Linked DNA regions of Homo sapiens: region 1 is linked to region 2. Evidence: fine-mapped expression QTL. Tissue or cell type: gastroesophageal junction. Region 2 holds a variant in brackets; the other region holds the start of a gene. All regions are shown on one strand. Distances are from middle to middle.

Region 1 (10,194 bases), 120 kb before region 2:
TTTTTTTTTTTTTTTTACCAGATGTTGTCTGACTTTCCCTGCATGCGCAGCCTCTGTTGCCATTCCTCAGAAGGTGCATCATTGGGTAGATGCAGTCTTTCTTATCCTCTCCCATTTCCAAGGGATAATAATCATTTTAGTAGTGTTCACTTTGACTGTTTCTTTCCACTATCTCACTGTTAAGTGATTGTTCTGCCTGTGTTGGTATCACACCCAGATTTTGGCCTTCTTAATTGTTTGCTGAATTGTTGCTCTATGGTTTTCAATAATACCCTGAGGTATGAATTGACCAACAATCTGATCCAATTAAATTTGTCTGCTTCAGCTACTATAACAACATACCACAGACTGTGTGGCTTAAACAACAAAAATGTATTTTCTCACAGCTCCAGAGGATGGAAGTCCATAATCAAGCTGCTAGCAAATTCACTGGTGAGGGTTCTCTTTCTGGCTAATAGATGCTTGCCTTTTCGTTACTTCCTCGCGTGGTCTTTCCTTAGTGTGTGCACCCAAAAAGAGAGAGAGAGTGAGCTATCTGGAGTCTCTTCTTATAAGAACATTAATTCTGTCAGATCAGGACCCCACTCTTATAACCCCAATTAACCTTAATTACTTCCTTAGAGGCCCTATCTCCAAATACAGCCACACTGGCATTTGTGCTTCAACATATAATTGTGGGGGACATAAACATTCAATCTATAACAGGCTTCTTTATAGGGGTAATATTTGAGGCCAAATTTTGTGGCTAGTGCCAAATCCAAGAGGGCATTTTTTACCTCTTTTTCTGCCTGTCTTTGCTTAACTTCTAGCTGGTCTGCCACTATCTTGTTGCTATCATGAAGCAACAAGCCTACTCTTAATTGTCCACCAGAAGAATCTTCATTGTTTTCAACAGTGTCCCTATGCTTGAAATACCCTATGCTGTCTTACAAATAAAATTCCAGCTTATGTATCATCAGTCTTCTAAGGGAAAGATACATAGCCCTCTATTCTTATGGCCTGCCTCTCCTATGAGTAGTACCTTTACACCACTGCACCAGAGCTGGCAGAAGAGACAGTGACCTACTTCTCCTGGAGCAATACTCTTGCTCCACAAGTGGAGCACTGAATACGGATCGTAGTCCCTAGTCTTTTTTGCTTATGCCTCCTGGAATACATCCTATACACTATGAGTGATCCAGGGCAGGGATATTCAGGACCTTGCTGCTCCTGGGCTAGAGATTATACCCTATGAGAGGAGGCTGGGTAGAGGAAGGAAACCATAGTCCTCTTGGTCCTGTCTACAATGAATAGAATTTCTGCAACCTGAAGCTGGGACAATAAGAGATTCCAACAGCCTTTTGCTCTAGGGGTGAACTATGATCTTTAACTGGAAGCTGGGAGGAGAGGGAGCCCAGTCTTTTGGCTACATCCACTCAGAGTTGAGCTCTCATCATACTGAGCTTGGGAAGAACAGAGGTTAATGGAGCAGATCTTGGCTCAAATGCCATAGACGCTCACTTCTTACTGAGATTTAGATTTTCTTGAATAAATAATTATTAATTTTCTGCATGCCCTTAAGACAACTTCCAGAGATTTTCATTTCTTTTTTATAATTTTTAGCAGTTAAATAGTTGTTGTAAAGGTTCTAGCAGTTTACCTCTACCATCTATTCCTGCCCTTACTTCCTCTGCACTTCTTCAACATATGGCTTGGGGAAAAGAGAAACTTGATCCCTTCCACCTAGCACCAAGAAAAACATTGATTGTTTTTCGTGTTGTAGTTCAACTTTACACGACTTTTTTTTTTCTTTTTCTTTTTTTTTTTTTTTTTTTTGCTACAATGAACCCAAAGCCCAGAGAATCCCACCAATGAAACAGATTTGGAGAGAATGGAGAGGGTAAAAAAATATGGTTCATGGCACCTACTGGGTCCAATATTACTACTTCCTGTGGTAAAATGCCTGTAAAGATTACCTCCAGCAATTCCTGTCATCCAATATGCACATGCAATCAAGAGATAGAATCTATTGCCTCACCCATGGAATCTGAGACTTGGGACTTGCTTTAACCCATAAATTGTGATAAAAATGATACTGTGCCAGTTCTGGGCTTAAGCTATCTGAGAATGGTCAGCTTCCACTATTGCTCTCTTGCTACTCTGGACTGTCACATAAGGAATTCCAGGCTAACCAGATAAAGTGAGACATCATACAGGGAGAGAAGCCATGGGAAGAAGAATTAAGACCCCCGCCCCAGGCAAAAGCCAACACAAAGATCTCAGTCATGTGAGTGAAGCCATCTTAAACCTTCTAGCCTAGCCCAGATACCAGCAGAATGCAGCCTTCTATTCCAACTAATTCACATGGAATGCTGCCCAAATCCTGACCCAGAGAATCGTAATAAAATAGTTGTTGTTTAAGCCACTACATCTTGGGGTAGTTTGTTGCACAGCCATAGATAAATGGAACACTCCATTTGTGGAATTAGATAATAAAGTTTTCTTCAGAGTAAGTTTCTTAACAGCCAGTAACCATTTAAATAGAAAGCTGATAATAGAAAGTAGAAAGAAAAAGAGGTAGAAGGAGAAAAGAGGAGGAATATCAGGGGATAAAGTTATCCACAACTAATAGAGACAGAACAAAATAAATGAGATAGATTGGTAGAGGTGGGGGAAGAAGTGAGTAAGTGAGGGAATTCAGGGACATGTGACCTAAGGAGGAGATAGATTAAGGATTCAGGAGCCCACATGGTGCATGTATGGGTACAGGAGATGTAGACGGAGAAGGGGAACACTAAATTAACAAGAAGGGGGCCTGGGTCCACAGCCCAGTTCTGTTGTAATTAGCCATCTGCCCTCAAGAAACACATTTATTCTGACCTCAAGAAAGGCATTTGTTCTATCTGGCATTCAGTTTCCTACATGGTAAAATGAGGGATCGAGATAAATAATCTCTTCCAGATTTAATTTATTTCCCTTGACAAGAAAATACAAATGAGTTTGACAATTCTTATAAACACTGTGTCCTGAAAACCATACCTATTTATGGGGTGAATGAGACTTTGTAACTATAAGTGGTTGGCTTATTTGTGCAACAAAATGCTAATAGTCTATGTTAATAAGAAGGGAAATATTGTTATTTCAGTAATGTGGAGATGCTCTATTGATAGTATCCATAGGGTTAACAATTTTTTGTCCAAAACTTCTGCCTGACTTACCACAAGGCTTTGTTTTTTATGTTAATAACCTCAATACATCATATCTAATATTATTTTCTAAGAAAAATAATTCTTCTAATGTGAGATTGCTAGATTCTTTGTTTTAAGCCAAGTTATAAATATCCTTTTTATAAAATCTCTTTGCTGTTACTAAAATATTTGATGCTCCCAAACATAGTATCACTACTCCTTAGAATATTAGTTTGGCTTTGTGAAACAAACAAGAACATTACACGTATTATTAATGGGCAAGTATTCTCTTAAATTCTTCTTCTAACATCAATTCTTTTCAGATTTTCATTAGCTCATTTATATTCACTGAATGTGTTCCTTTTTTGAACCCCATTCAGATTCAACTCCTCAAACAAACCAAGCTCACATTCTTATGTATGTGAAAGTATATTTACTGTGCAATTATCGAAGTCTGGGAAACTTTCCTTAAAACTATTTTCTATGTAGGTTATCCCTAACCCTACTTTAATTCCTTTTTATTTTTAGCTCTTAGCCTATTACTTCTGAGAAAGCTTCCTCTGATTCCAAAGTCCAGTTATTCTTATTGAACACCCTCAATATGACACAAATACACTGTTTTGTAATTGCCTAGTTCTAATATGTATTTCACATTAGACTAAGTTTCAAGAGGACAAAGATCTGAAACTAGACATTTTTTTCTTTCTCATTATAAGTTCTGCACTTACTACAGGTGTGTTCAATCAATAATTGTTAACCAAGTGAAAAATGAATGAATGTATTGCATGTGACACTGTGGGAGACATTAAAAAGAAATGGAATACTTTGTAGAACATTAAAATCAGCTATATTTGTTATAGGTATGTATATTAATAATGATACTTTATAAGCATGAAAACAACAGCTCATTTTAAGATCAATACAACCACAATTTTGCCATGTAGCTGAAGTCTTAACTTTTTCTAAATATAATATAATAAAATTTACTATCTATCTTAAAATTGAGAATAATTGAGAAAAGGAAAAGTAAACAGATTATATAGGTCTATTTTCTGGAATAAACATGACAGATGAAAAACACATCAGTAAAATGTGTTCTTTATGCACTTAGGATATTTAAGGAATCAAATCAACTATATAAAGTATTGCATTTTTCAGAATATAAAATACATGTCAGTCAACAACTTATAAAATGTTCCAGAGTGCCCCCAAGTTGCAGAGTAAAGGCCTACAATTCAGAAGCAACAAGGTATAGGAATTGGATGATATTCAACAGAGAAAATTGTGAAGCAGACACAGACATCTATTACCTTTCTAGTGTGAAAGCATACATCTTGGCAGCTTTATCATTCACAAGATACGTTCTTTCAAGAAACTCCATGACGGCCAGGATGAGCTGCGGCTGTTGTTGTCGTTGTTGTTGAACTCACTGCCCAGTTTTGGAAGCAAAGCAGCACTGCAATTATTTATACACTTTCTAAAGAAAAAATTAAAAGGCTCCAGAAATTAAAATAATGAGCTTCCTACATCAGTGTTGTTGGTAGGTCTGCTAAAATTACAGCCTCCTTGCAATATTACCTGGCTTCATTGTTTTCACCTACAAAAACTGCTTTTCTAGGGAGACTTGCAGGTAGCATTACATGAAGTGTGTATGTCTTTCATATGATATCTGATTCAATTGTGCTTTCTAAGAGGTAGAGGAGCTCAAGAGCTTGCTACAAATTGCTGATGTAGGGTTTTGACCTTCGGAGCACACGTGGGTGAGCTGCAAATAGCTACCATTCGCTACACTAAACTAATTCTTTCTTTTTCTCTCCCTCCTCCTTTTTCTGGACTCTTTATCAGCCTAAAATTATTTCTTTGGAATTTAGTTCTAAGATGACCTCTAAGCAGCTGTCAGAATTTACTTGTCTCTCCTAGGACCATTTTGGGATTTCACTATTGAAAGGGAGGACAAGGGTCAATAGTTTCTGAAACCAGTAATCTGAAAACAGTTCTTGGTACAGCAGCTTTGAAATCCTTTTGATTGGCAAGAGAAGGACAGACTCTGCTTCTACGTAAATAACAGCCCTCCAAAATACAAGAACCAGAGTGAGCTTTGTTCTTCCTGGCCAAGGTACCCTCTACTAAGGATCAAGGATTCACCCAAGGAAACCCTATCAGGCATGCCAGTTCCAGCTCCGAGGAAGGAAGCCTCTGAGTTGCTCCTGGGAGACCTCACACTCCTCAACTCCTAGGAATCAGCATTTTACTTCATACAAAGCACTTTCCTTCCCAAATAAGAGAAAGAACTATAGCCTTATGGCAAGAGCCTGGACAAACAGTAGGCATTTGTGTGTGGGCAAAAGGTTTCAAGACCTATAAAGATGTACACAACGGTAGAGAAAGAGGGGGTTGTGCAGACTGGAGAACAGGAGTAAACCCCAGACCACCAGGTTCTTGTTGCCTTTTCCTTGTGTGAACACTAACTTTCTAGTGAGAAAACTCAGAGTAGTTAAGTCCCAGAATAACCCAGTGGCCCAGAGTCACGGGAAGTTGCCCATTATGCTGAGCTGAGATCTCTCACAATGGCCTAATAAAATGAATATTGTGCTCTAAAAGGAGGATGGGGTTCAATGCCAATTGTCATAGGCAGTGACAGGAGAAGTCACCTTTGGTTCAGAATGAGACTATTAGGTCTCCTATCACATCTGTGGTGTAGCTGTACCTCTTATTATCTTAAGATTTCAAACACTCTCATCTATAACATAAATTCTAAGGTCTTCTCATATGACCCCACTCTTACTGATCCTTAACTTTGCTCACACAGTTTGGAGCCTCTAAGAGGCTCTGGGGGAGCCTTTTCCTTGCAAGTGAAGGCATTGAAATCCTGGGTCTACTGTTAGCAGAATAAAAACCAATGTATTTTTTCTCGTATATTCTTACTCTTAACCTTACAAAGTAATCAGTTATTCTGTGGAGGCGAAAGTAGAAAACCAGAAAAGAATTACTAATCCACCTGTGTGACACACTGCCATATGTCACAGCTTGAATCATTTGTGAATAGTTTCTAGCACAGACAAGAGAAATAGAATTCAAGTGAATGAATGTCAGAAAATGAGGAAACTACTTTAAATCAGCCTGAAATTCATTAAGGGTGAGTACAAAAAAAAGAGATAAGCAATATTTTCAAATCAGGAAGGAGAATATTTGGCTATAGATATCAACAGGAAATAAACAATCTGGAAGTTTGAGATTCCTCCATGCGAACTTTGCCTCTAGTACAAATACGGATGTACAGATCTATTTATAATTGACATACATACATACATAATTGACATATAATTTATAATGAGTGTGAAGGATACATGCCAGGTAGTTAATGTGGATTGCCTATGGGGCAAGAATAAAGTGAGAGTAGGATGGGGTTGATGTAGGACAGGGAAAAGTGAAGATGGGAAAAGAGACAATGAGAGACCCAAGCAAAACAACAAAAAATACTGCTACCCCCTGTCAAAAATGTATCCTATGATCTCTTCTATTTGTCTATAAGATAAACTATATAAGTCCTATGTGGTCTAATATCAGCAATTTTATATGGTTCAACTTAAATATACATGCACACATATATAGATACCTAAAATATATGTGTGGATATGTATGTTACATTTACTAATAAAAATGTACATATTTATAAAGTACTAGGAAATTAATTATGATTTTCATCAAAGATTTATGAATCCCAAAAGTTACTCTTGAAGATGATTACCATAAAGCAAAGCTTCCAGTGTGAGTAGCATAAGAACAGAGAACAGTAGATTACAGCAAATAAAATTATGCTTAAAAAGTTTTGCTGCCATAAATTTAGATGCAGATGTTATGATCAAGAATTGCATATTATATCATGTAAAATATGCATCTGCTGATCACCTTATTCTCTTACAAGTTCATTTTAACTGCACCGTCATTCCCTCTCTCAAATATTTTGTCATCACAACATTTATGAAAAATCTCTCATCCTCCCTGACAAACCTTTGGTCTACTTTGGCATGAACTGCCCACCAAGGGCCAACGGCCTAACTGGGCTCCACAAGCAGCATAGAATATATATTTGGAAAGCAACTTGGATCAAAAAGGAAAATCCCATCCCCTGTAGACATTGGTTTTAGTGGGCATTACGCTGCTCATTTCAGTTTCCTAGGCAACCAGCTTCCAAACCATCCCGAATTACAGGTTGTCTTCTCCGCCCACTCTCCTTCACAAGCTTGGAGTAACTGAATGGGAAACACACAATCTATAACAGCTACCTGTGGAAATAAGTATTCTGTCAGCCACAAGAACATCACCAACATCACTGAAGAACTGGTTTGGCTCTTCAGTCCTAGCTGTTGTCAGCAACAATTTCTTAATAGGGTGTTACAAACAGTAGCTAATACTTGTGCAAAAATAATTTCACAAGTATCTTAAACATTGTTGGATATTTCACTTGTAGAAAGGACATATGGATTTATAAAAAGCTACCATCATTATCCCTAGATACTAAAGTACCAAGTACTTACAATTTGTGTTCCCCATATTTAAACTCGTATTTCAGAAATACTTCATGTTGCCAATGTGTGCATGCAACCATCTTTTTAAATCAGACATAGAAATGTGCCTGTTTTTAAATAACAAATGTGGACTTTCATCATGTTTTGCTTTTTCCTGTTGGTGTGGAGAGGTAGTGTGGTGAAGTGGTTTAATATATGGGTTTTCAAGTTAGTTAGGTAGACAATTTTAGTTTCCAGTTTGACCACTTTCTTAGATATGTGACCTTGAACAAGTTGCCTGACCACTGTGTTTTTCCGTTTCTCACCTGTAAAATGGGAGTATTAATCGAATCCATCTTACAGAGTTCTTGTGAAGAGGAAAACAGATAATATGTATAAAAGTTCTTAGCATAGTCTCTGATATATAACCAGTTTTATGTAACTGTGAGTTTCTATACACTGGGCCATGTCTAAGTAAAATGTTTTGGCTATTGCTGAGAAATTGGCTCCAGCTTTAGCAGAAGGCTAAGAATTACCTGTGAATGAAGCATCCATCAAGGAAATAAAGGTTATTGAAAAAGGAAGATCTGGGGACTTCAGCTATCGGCTCTATGACTTTGGGTAGATCTCTCAAACCCTCTGGACTCTACTTTCTCAAATTAGATTGATGTCTGCCTCATTCTACCCCCTCACCAGTAGAGTGCCATTCAGAATGATCTTCACTATGGAGCTGTCTTCCACAACAGGGGAGGCAATTCAAACTCAACCAGTGTAATCACCCACTAAAGATTCTGGACTCATGCATTCTCACATAACTATAAAGATCTTATTATTTCTAAGTTGAGTAGTATTTTCTTAGCAAGGTAGCTTTATGGTTATTACTACAGTGTGAGTATTTCAGAGGTTTCATCTAGAAATGTGAAAACAAAGACATTAGAAATTTAATTGGATTGTATTTTAGAGAGCATTATGAAAATTTTATTTTAATCTAAAGTAAATATGTATAAAACACAAACCATTTCCAATATTTTATACACTGCTTGAAAATGGACCGAAAGCAATATGATGTTTATTTCCTTCTTGATAAATTAGGACCATGTAATTTTTTTTACTATTTCTATTTTTCAAGCGATTGAGCTATAGGAATGTTCTGGTGAAAATGCAATTTGTATTTGTTAAGAATAGAAAGACTTGATAAAATATTGATACTAAAAGAATAAAAGAAATATTTTATTAAGTCTCATAGATGCAAATAAATGACAGAAAAATGAACTAGCATTATTTTTGGGGGGAGAAATATTGGGGCTAGCTGCTTGAAGTGTTTATGAAGTGTATATTTCTTCAATTCTTCTCCATATACCACACTTCTTTTTCCAAGCACTTGCAAATTTGAACTAATTAACCCTCAAAAACGCCCTCTAGGTGAGATATGGTTGTTATTTCTTACAAACTCCAAAACAATGGCCTTTTGGCTTCATAATCTCACAACTATATGTCTTTTTATTTATATAAAAAGGCAAGAGAGGATTACAAAGAACCTATCCATTATTTTAAAGATTAGAATAGAAAAGTAGACAAAAATATACTTTCTAATATTCCAACCCCTTGGTCTATAAATGCACAGAGCATCACTGAAGACTAAAACATTAAATGCTCAAATTTAATAATAATAATAATAATAGAGCCCTCTTGTCATTATCTGGAATGCCACCATTTAATTTTCATGAGCACTGTTTATTTTCCTTCAGTGAAAGGTTTTAGGGGATCATAATTCATCTTTGGGAAATGGATTTTCACAGAGCATTCCCAGATGAATACCAACAGAGCAAAGGCAAAGCTCATCGTCTCCTCTGAATCTCCAGGCCTGGCTTTATTTGACTCCTGGCTGACAATACTTTCTCTCAGGAGATAGTCCAGGAGACAAGACAAAGCTTCCTCAGAGCTTTCCCATGAAAGACTGAACCGTTGCTTTTCACGTTGAATCCAAAATGCATCAAGGGACAGCAGCTGTCTTTCCTGCTTGGAAGCACAACCACAAGGCGTTACAACTAATTCATCTCTTCTTTTGGTATTAGTGAATTTGCTTCCAGTAAGTCTACAGTTTAAAATGCTGCTAATCCAATTGTCGCAAATCTCACCACTACCATCAGGAGATGAGTTATTTTAATCTGTATCCAATGAAGACAAGTGAGGCACCTTATCACCTTTTGCAACCCTAAACTCTCGACCAAGTCACCCAGATATTGATCAGTGAGCAGATGACAGGAGCTTCCATTTCCTTCGCAGTCAGCTAACTCCAAAAGAGAACAAAAATGTTTATTTAATTATAACAAGCAAACACAAAACATTATTGAAAACATTGTATTTAGCAACAGATTTTTAAAAGCCTTATATACCTAGGATAATATTCCCCTTTACCATTCAGAATCTAAAGCAAAGATTATTCTCTGAGTCTCCACCAGAAATATAATACGTTATCATTCACAAAATAAAAATTTCATTTTAAACTTTCATATTAA
Region 2 (10,194 bases):
ATCAAACGCAACAGTGCTATGCAACACAGTGTAGCTATCCAACACAGTGGTGCTATCCAACACAGCAGTGCTATCAAGGCAGTGGTGCTATCCAAACATGGTGGCGCCAACCCCCTGTGGCTGCTGAGCATTTGAAATGTGGTAAGTCCAATTGAGATGTGCTGAATAAGCATCAAAGACATTATGGATTTTGAAGACTTAGTAAAAAAAAGAAGAATATAAAATAGCTCAATGATTTTTCATATTACATGTTGAAATAATATTTTTGATATATTATGTTAAAATATATTATTAAAACTAATTCTTCTTACCTTTTACAATTTTATGTATGTATGTATGTATGTATGTATTTATTTATAAGAGACAAGGTCTCACTACGTTGCTGAGGCTGGAATGCAGTGGCTATACACAGGTGCAACTCCACTGCTGTTCAGTATAGGAGTTTTGACCTACTCTGTTTCTGACCTGGGCCAGTTCATCCCTCTTTAGGCAACCTGGTGGTTTTCTGTTCCCAGGGAGGTCACCATATTGATGCCAAACTTAGTGTGGACCCCAATCAGCATAGTGCACTATAGCCCAGAATGCCTGGACTGGAAAGATCCTCCCACTTTAGCCTCCCCAGTAAGTATTTGGGACTACAGGCAGATGCCACCATGCCCAGCTCTACTAACTTTTCAAATATGGTTACAAGAAACCTCAAAATTATATAAGTGGCTCACATTTTATTTCTATGGGACAGGACGAGTCTAGATAACTTCCCTGTTGGGCAGAAAGCCATCATCCTAAATGAACTCATTAATAAAAAGAAATTCATCTCTTCTGAATCTTCTCCTCCAACCCAGAATCTTCTCAGCAAGGTCTTCCATGGCCTGGGCAGCCAATAAAAGTTAAATTTCTCTGCCTCATTTAGTCACTCTCATATAATGCCTCATTTTCTTCACAGGTATTCTGAAATTGTTGTATTCGCTTCTTTCCTTACTTATTCTCCACCTGCCTGAACTAGTGTCAATTCCACAAGTGCAGGGCCCTTTCACATCCTCTTCACTGTGGCTCCACGTCAATTTGACTTTGGTGTTGGCTGGTGCCTTGCTTCTATTGGGCCAAAAACTATGCCAGACAGAGAGTAAGTGTTTAGCAAATATTTTGACTGAGAGAAAGCACTACAAACATAGAAAATACAGAAATGAAATGCTGTTGCAACTGAGATAAAATTTAAGTACAGGGATGAAGAAACCTTGTATTCTAATATTATTTGGCAACTTCAGAAACTGAAGCAAAGTGCTTGAGAGCAGGTTGATATTAGAACACAAGAGAAAACCACAAATCCACCCTCAGCCACTGGGCCCTGTAACTATGATCTTTAATAATAATATTAATAACAGCAGCAATAGCCAACATTAGTACTCTGTTGCATTTACTTTGTGCCTGGTACAGTTCTAGTGCCTCACATATATTAACTAATTTAATCTCTAAATAACCCTATAAATGAGACACTATTTCCCCCCTTTTACAAATTAAATAACTGGGGCACAGAAAGTAAAGTGACTTACCCAAGGTCACACAGTATCAAGCATCAGAGCCAGGATACAAACCCAGGCACTCTAACTCTCTTAACCACCTTACTATACCTTAAACCTCGACGATCTTCCCTGATTTTATTAGCTTTATCTTGTTGTGAGCATGCTAGATGAATATAACATAACGTGAATTAGAAATATAGATCTTTTAAAAATCTGTTTAAAATGTGAATGGCAGTATCATCATAACAATGGAGAAAGCTTCAGAATAAATGGAGAAAGAATCACTATTTTTCATGCTGTCTTAAGCGTCTACCCTCATGACAGGAAGAAAATGAGGTAAATGTTTTCTCTTAAGCTCTAAGCATATTTGTACATTTTAATCTCTCTCCTTGTATATTCATCAGAGCAATCTTTTGTTAGCTGTAAACTTGCTATGTAAATATATATAAAATATGTGCTATCTACAGATATTCTCTGCTGAAATGATGACAGTATTTGTTTTCAGTGACTAAACAGGGAACCCAAAGTGGATACTAAACTAGCAGCTGTTAGCGTGCATTTCAACAGGAGAAATGAGAGACTTGAGAGAGATGTATTTATTTGGCACCTCAGCCTGGAGTTGATAGCTGCCTTGTTCTTTGCCCCTGTCTTTTCCTGCTCAGTTTCGTTAACTTGATTTTCCTCTTTCTGCAGTGCCCAGCCCAACTATAGTCTGACATTATATCTGATCCTCAGCAGAAAGAATGTTTGAAACCACCTAACTCAAAAACTCTTTGATTCAATATCGACTTCTATTATCCATTGGTGTCCATTTTTCAAAGGCTATTTACTGAGCATTTTCTGTGCGCAAGGTTAAAACAACACCTAGCTTCCACAAACTACTTTCCTGGGAACCTATCCCTTTTTCCCTTCAATATCCCAGTTTTTGGATTTCTGGATTTCTAGTTTCTTCTGCCTGGTCTAAACAGACAGCCTAGGTGACCTCTCCAGGACTGATTCACCTGGCTGAAAGTAACCTTATGCCCGGTATTATCCCCCTTCTCTCTTACCAACGTTTGCTCTTGTTCCTTCTTATTCAAGCGCATTCCATTGCTGCTTCTCCTTCCCCTTCTCCCAAACCATTAGACACACCTGTCATTTGTGGCAGAAGTTAACCTACTCAACAAGTACTTCTGCCCATTGTTCTGAATGTTCAATAAATGACCCTGTGGCTCTCCCCAATGTACCAGGTTGTAAAACACCAGTGAAATAAAGCATAACACCAATTAGGATCATTTGAAGAGAAAAACATATGGCTTAGAGTCATCTGCTATATTTATTATTTTCTGCTTACTACAAAGTTTCCTACTTTAGGCCTGTGTCACAAAGTGAGTCCCAACAAACACTGATCCTAAGACAGATGTCATGAGGAAAAATGCTCCCCTCCAGAAAAAAAAGGTGGGTGGGAAAGCGTTCTGTGCAGAAAACCCTGTATTCTATGTCCCCTTCTTGTTTCACAAACAGGTTTGACACAAAGCCCTCCCTCGCCCTCTTTTTTTTGGGGGGGGGGGGTGCATAATAGCATCTAATTTATTACTGTAATGTTTCCCATTGGACCCACTTTAGGAAATGCAGCTTTAAGAAGACAAAGATGAACCAGATATTTTTTTCCACCTTCAAAGGACCTTTATCTTGGAATGGACCATGGAGAAAAATGAACAGCAGAAAATAAGAGTAAACAAAGCACAGGTGTATGTGTTTGTGTGTCTGAGCAGAGGGAAACTATAAGAATGGGCTGTTTGCTAAGTTTCATTGTAAGGTGACTGGCATCGTATTTTCCTTGGAATAATGATACATGGTTTTTTGTCCTAAATCTCTATGTGGTGTAGAACATATAAAGAAAGTCAGATAGCGGGGAACTTTTAAGAAGTTTTATGGTTGATAGAAAGATCCTTAATCCTCTTGTTTGTGCCACGCAGTTTCCTATAAGCTCCCCTCACCAACATCTTGTCCTTTCAACAGCCTCTAAAAAGAATTTCCACCTTCATCCCAAATTCTGGTTTCAGCTCTCGGTATATCTATATATATATATATTTGTAATATATATAGATATATAGTTGTGATGTTACCAAATGCCAGGGGTTCGGTCTAGGTCCCTTTGCTTGCTGCACGCAAAGCCAATTACTGAGACAACAGATATTAGCAGAGAAGAAGGTTTTATTCATGTGACATCAGCCAGAGAGACAGAAGACAAACCTCAAATCCATCCCTCTCCCACAGACTAAAGTTAGGGGTTTATATAGCAGGGAACTGAGGAAGGGTAAGAAAAGGGAGTTGGACAACAGGCAGTAGGTGCATCTCATTTCCCAGGGGCAGTGACCTATCAATAGAAAGCCTCAGCTCTCTGATATTTGCCAGAAGGCCTGATGATCAGTTCCCTGAGAAAGGAACTGAGATAAGACATCAGTAAGTTAAAACTGGATCCATTTCAGTAACACTACGTACTTGTTTTGCAACCTATCCTCTCACACACTTGATTTACCTTAAGTCCAAAAGGGACCTAAAAAGACCATCCTATATTTTTCAGATCTAAATATGCTCAGCATATTTGCATGACTAGCATCATGTTTAAACAGCTAACTCATGGCAATTGAAGGAATAGAATCAAGGTATAGGGACTCACCACCACAGACTCATCAGCCATTCTCTTTCCTTGGCCAACCCATTGAGAATTTCCTCAAAGATGATAGGCTCATTCTTTGTAAAGACTTCATTTGTTACACCCTTGTTACTCTCAGCCACATTCTGGAAACTAAG[AAGG/G]ACTGTTCAGCAGCCAAAGGCTAATATGATAACACTTGAAAAGAAACCCCAGTGAGTTACTAATGGGAATATTTATTTGTGAGTCGGGATCTGACCACCTTTTCAGAATCATTACTGATCCCCTCATCTTCAGCATTCATGTGCCCCTATATTAGGTTGGTGCAAAAGTAATTGCGGTTTTGCCATTAAACGCAGTGGCAAAAACTGCAAATACTATTGCACCAACCAAATAAAACAGCAATGCCAAGTTCACCAAGAGCTAAATGAAAACATATTGATAGTCTGTTTCACACTTTTTTCAAAAATATTCTAAGTTAAAGATTCTGTATTAAGGGTGAAGGATTTCATGAATTTAATGGCTAACAATTTATCCTTAAATGTGCTATCATTGAAAAAAATGACTGATAATGATTAATATATTCTCACATGACCTACAGAGAGGCTTTGTTTTTAAACATCTCTATGTAAAACTAAAATCTTTAAGAAAAAAATGAAGTTAAATAGGAAAGCAAAGTTAAAAAGAGGGATTAAAATGGACTTGAAAGAAAACACTCTTCATTCCTTCACCTCTGTCCCTCCTAGATAATTCTTTGGCCCCTTTAGACTCCCATAAGAAGGATTTCCATCTTCATCCCAAAGCTTGACACCACCAAGTCCAGGTATATATATGGTTGTCATTTTTAAGCTGTAAGGTGCTAATATACCTGACACATTGTGGACAAGAGAATTTACTGAGAAAAAAATGAATGAATATTAATATTTTATTTTCTTTTTTACTTCCACATTTTCTTCTTTTATCTACCCTAGAGCAATGCTAGGTGCTGCTCAAAAGGGGTGCCTAGATGATTTGATAACATTTCCCACTGAACATCTCTGCTGCTCAGTCCTTGTATTCCCAGTCTTTTGTTATTAAATACTTGTTACCTTCTACAACTCTTTCAAATGTGGGAATGAGAAGGAATCATGCAGTAGAGACAGATAACAGAGGAAGGTGAGCTGTATACAGAAAGCAAAATTCACAAAAAGATGAATGCTAAAATGGCAAAGAAACATTCTTATGCTTTTCCTTGTGCCTCATTGTCCATGCCTCTACTCCCTCTTATCTTCCAAATTTCTTGACATTTCTACCCTTGAGCTGAAGGAATACAAATCCATTTTGCTAACATTCTTCACACAATTGAATTCTCAAAGCTATACCTCTCCTGACACAGGTAGTAATGAATCTCCAAGAAAGTATAAGAAATATTAATAGTTGCAGAGAAAGCCAGAGGAAATGCCAGGGTCTGCTTGCTCTTTCATCAAAAGTAGCCCCATTAGAATGAGGCAGTCATGCCAATAGTGAATTATTAGATCTTTTTCTTAGAGCTGTCAGATGATACACTGTTGTCATGACCACTATAATTAAAACACTGTTTACTGAGTTTCTCTGAAGTGCAAAAGCATTATGATTGGCTCTAGAGTATTATAAGATTATAAGAAATATATGCTGACTGCCTTCAAAGGCCTACAATCTATTTGAGGATCCACCGTGTGTGTGTGTGTGTGTGTGTGTGTGTGTGTGTGTATACATATGTCTATGTACATGCACAACACACACACACACATGCACACACACACACACTTATATACAGTCGTCCTTCTGTATCCTTGGGGATTGGCTCCAGGAACTCCAGAGGACACTCCTGATATAAAATGGCATAGTATTTGCATATAACCTACACACATCCTACTGTGCTCTTTAAATCATCTCTAGATTATACACAATACCTAATACAATGTAAACGCTATGTAAATAGTTGTCATACTGTATTGTATGGGTAATAATGACATGACAAAAGTCTGTATGTGTTCAGTAGGGACACATTTTTTTTTTAATATTTTCAATCCACAACTGGTTGACTTCACTGGGAAGTCTGGAATTAGAAAATTAAATTAGGAAGATTAACTGCTAAAATACTGTAATTAGCTATCATTAAAATGGCATAACACTGACAGAAAACATTGAACAAAAGAAAATGTACACATTAAAAATAAGAAGTAAAAGAACTTTCAGGAAAGGAACTCTGTATTGTTTACCTATCTTTAATTTTGTATATACTCTTCAAATTTTAAAAAAAGTTAAAACTCCAAACAGCATATGCTAAATACAAAATGAGTTTTATGTGAGCAACTAATTAGTTGCTCAACTTTTGAATGAGCAACTAATACAAAAGTTCAGAGGAGAAAGCAATCTGGAATTATTCTGGGTTCTTTTCAAAGTAAGCTAAGTACACAAAATTTCTATCCTCAAGGAGCTCGAAATCAGTATGAATTATGTTACAAAGAGTAAAACTTACCCACTGTGAAACAAGTGCATGGAATGAGAAAATCTTCTGAATTAATAAAATTCACATTACTCATGGTCTTTTGAAATAACTGTCTTAACATTTTCATAAACTGGAAGCTTCCAAAATATTTCTCACGTAGTAGTCCTGCTTATGTTTTATTGAGTAGTTAAAAGTTATTTGCCATTAGATGATTATTAATATGTAACAAAATGCCATTAAACTTTAAGAAGTTTTGGAGGATTGAGTATTTTCTTTTTCCCAAAGAGGTCCAACATCACCCCTGGCTTCTTTTTGCACAATAAAATTGAATGCTATATTTTTGGCAGTGCCCAAGGATAGTGCAAAATTACAGAGGGTCCACCACGAACTCTAAATTAACAAGTCTAGAGCCTTGAGGCTGGCAAAAAGTGACTTCTGCTGTCAGCTCTCTCTAGGCTTCTCTCTGTCTCAGGTGCAGGAGTTGGTATAGAACAGGGTAGAAGTGTTTAATTTGGAAACTATCTACTCCATTGCAAGTTTACCTTACGAGTTTCACAAACGAGCTATTTGGCATTTCAAGGAACTTCGCAATAAGAGGGCAGACTAAAATGATAAGTTTCATTCAGGCAAAGAGGACACAACCTGAAAAATGAAACGTTGGTCAAGACTCCTGATTACAAGTGACATAAACCCAGTTAAAACCACCTGGTCAAAAAGAGAGTTGGTTCACATACTGCAAAGTCCAGGGGAGGATCTGGTTTCAGGGGCTCCTCCATGTCATCAAAAATCTGCATCCCCTTCCCCCACTGCCCTTCTCTTTCTTGCTCCTGTTCTTATGGCTATTTCTCCCTATGAGTTACCCTCGTTCTCTCGGGCTGTAGCCTGAGGATGAAGTAGATAAGAGTTTAGCGTAGTAGAATAGAATTTGAAGAAACTGTGGCACACCCAGATATACGACTGATAAGGTTTGGATCTGTGGCTCTGCACAAATCTCATGTCAAACTGTAATCTCCGGTGCTGGAGGTGGGGCCTGGTGGAAGGTGATTGGATCACGGGGGCAGTTTCTAATGGTTTAGCACCATCCGCCTGGTGTTGTTCTTGTGACAGAGTTCTCACAAGAGCTGGTTGTTTAAAAGTGTACAGCACTTCCCCCATCTCTCTTTTGCTCTTGCTGTGCCATATAAGATGTGCCTGTTTGCCTTCCACTTTCCACCATGATTGGAAGCTTCCCGGGGCCTCCCCAGAAGCAGAAGCCATTATGCTTCCTTTACAACCCACAGAAATGTGAGCCAATGAACCCTCTTTTCTTTGTAAATTACCCAGTCTCAGGCATTTCATTATAGCAGTGCGAGAACAAACTAATACAGTGACGTCAGTCACCAATTACATCTGTGAATGTAGAACTCAGGAGAAAAACATGAACTAATAATTTTCATAAAGCACCATGTAATAATAACAATGCTTTTCGACCGTTGCCTAAATTCTAGGCACTTTACTAAGCAGTAAAACTCATTGAACTTTCAACATCCTGTGAGGTAATCTCAGAGGTTTAAATGAACTGCTTAAATTCTCACAACTACTAGGCCGTGGAGCTGCCAGATTCTAACCCGAGGGTATGACTCCTGTTCTGGACACTGTGGGAGCTGGCTGAAGCTTTGTCTGCTGAGGACTCACAACTGACCTTTCCTGGAATTTCCCTCCACAAAGGGAGCTCCCTCACCCAAAGTCAGGCCCCATTGATAAGAAGTGGTTCCAGAGCCTAACCGCTTTGCCTCAGTTTGGAAGAGTACAACAAAGCTCTCATGGGGTCTTCTGAGGCCTCTGTTCCAACTCTATCCCCATTAAACTTCTTCCCCTGCCTAATTCTAATTCCTCCAATTTTTTTACATGTGCTGTCCCTAGGCTTACCCTCTGATAAAACTCATATACACAAAACTCCATCTCAGAGTCCATTTCCAGGGAATCAACCTCAGACAGGTTCAAAGCCTGTGCTGTTCAAACCTTTCTCATAAGCAACCTCTTCAAGTCAAGTGCGTTGGCTTTGCCTGCTTCACTCCGAAAAAATATTACAAAATGAATCATGAAGTTTTAAAAATGAGCAATTTCCAAAGAGAGGACAAAAAATGTTCCCATGACATATTCAGAAAACCTGCATAATTTTATGTGAATTGTGGACCCAGTCAACAATCTTCCCAGGTAAATACTGTATATTCTCTGTTACAAAGCTGAGAAGAAGGCCTTCATCATATTGGTTTACTCTTTTCTGTCTCCCCAGCAAAATAAACTGTTTGATAAACAGCCTGAATTTATCAGCTTCTCCTTTACAAAGTTTTACAAAACCCAGCCTGCCTTCACATCAGAAAGTGTTTTGATACAAACTATTTCCTTTGAGAGTAACTATGGAGTCCTGCAATCTCAGGTCACTGGGGATTTGTTAATATTCATTGAGTCCCCATGATTTGTCACAAGATCACAAAATTGCCAATGCCCCATCTTAAACTGAATTGCAACAGAAATCACATAAGAATGACAAAAAACAAAGAGCAATTTGTTCACCTAGTTCTTGAAGGGCAATTCAAGTTCATTTGGTCCTTTTAGAATTTTCAGAAAATAGTCTTTTTTTCTTCCCTCTCAGTTTTTTCAATATGAAATTCTGGCCTCCAAGTTATGATTTCTGGAGTTCCAGAAAAGGCCCATGCTCTTTCAAATATCTCCCTTCACTGACTTAAGAGTATTTGCAATTCCACCATTAGAGATTCTTTTTTTAACGTCAGTCAAAGGTCTCCAAGGAAATAGAAACTCTTTAAGCCATCGAAGTCCAGCAGTTTAGTTTGAGTATGACTGAGTTTATCAGCAACTTTCTAAGCAGGGGATTTTGATTACTAAGTCCTTGAGTAGAAGGACAGGGTGGGAAACCAGCATTGGTAGAAGAGTTATTTGTTCAGGATACTTTACAAACATCATCTCATTTGATTCCCAAGTAATCCTGTATTATTCCATCTTTACTGGGGAGGAAACTGAGTTTTAGAAAAATAGGTAGATTGCCCAACATCACATAACTAGACACTCCGGATGTGGGCCTACCTAACATAACAGTCATCTACCCTAAAAACACTGGGCTGATAAGGGTTAAGAAGAAATAGAAACTAAGATACAAAACAAATGCTTGACCTCATGAGTATCATCAGGCTAGGCTCTGGGGCTGAAGGCAACACTGGGCTACACAAAGCATGACCTGAAGCAGAAGGGGGCCTTGAGGTAAAAGGATCCTTCCCAACAGATAGATATAGTTCTCATGTACTTTATTGTAGAATGGCCACCACCTCTGTAAACAAGGTCAGGAACATCTATAAACTCATTGCAACCTCAGATGGCAGAGATAGTCCACTCTGGATTGCAGATACTTGACCATTTGACATATCAATCTTACCAACAGTTTCTACAGCCCACCCTCAGACAGAATGAGGTTGCTCTGAATAGGACTTTGGGGGCAGGTACAAAGAGAGTGACTTGAAGGTATCTAATGTAAGGCACTTAAACCTGAGTAGGTCTCTACATGAGGCTACATA

Which allele goes with the higher level. Alleles are on the strand shown, and positions count from the first base shown. SD is a standard deviation of normalised expression in the study named.
As copies of G replace AAGG in region 2, the expression in gastroesophageal junction of the gene that starts at base 4,881 in region 1 goes down (small effect, 0.31 SD a copy in GTEx).

The links. PIP is the estimated chance that this variant, and not a neighbour inherited with it, causes the effect.
Region 1: SLC30A8 starts here. The variant in region 2 is the best candidate, but not a certain one, in a credible set for the expression of SLC30A8 in gastroesophageal junction (GTEx, PIP 0.67).

Annotation. Positions count from the first base shown.
Region 1 is chr8:117,129,682-117,139,875 of GRCh38, reverse strand. It overlaps SLC30A8 (solute carrier family 30 member 8), which reads right to left and starts at 4,881. Exons shown (of 8, transcript NM_173851.3): 1 at 4,478-4,881. The coding sequence starts at 4,548. The region is part of intron 6 of LOC105375716 (a long non-coding RNA gene); the gene reads left to right.
Region 2 is chr8:117,008,414-117,018,607 of GRCh38, reverse strand. It overlaps a transcript of SLC30A8 not described here and the pseudogene RN7SL228P. Among named protein-coding and RNA genes, the nearest start is that of AARD, 75 kb to the right of the region's middle. The variant AAGG/G (reference allele first, on the strand shown) is at 4,317.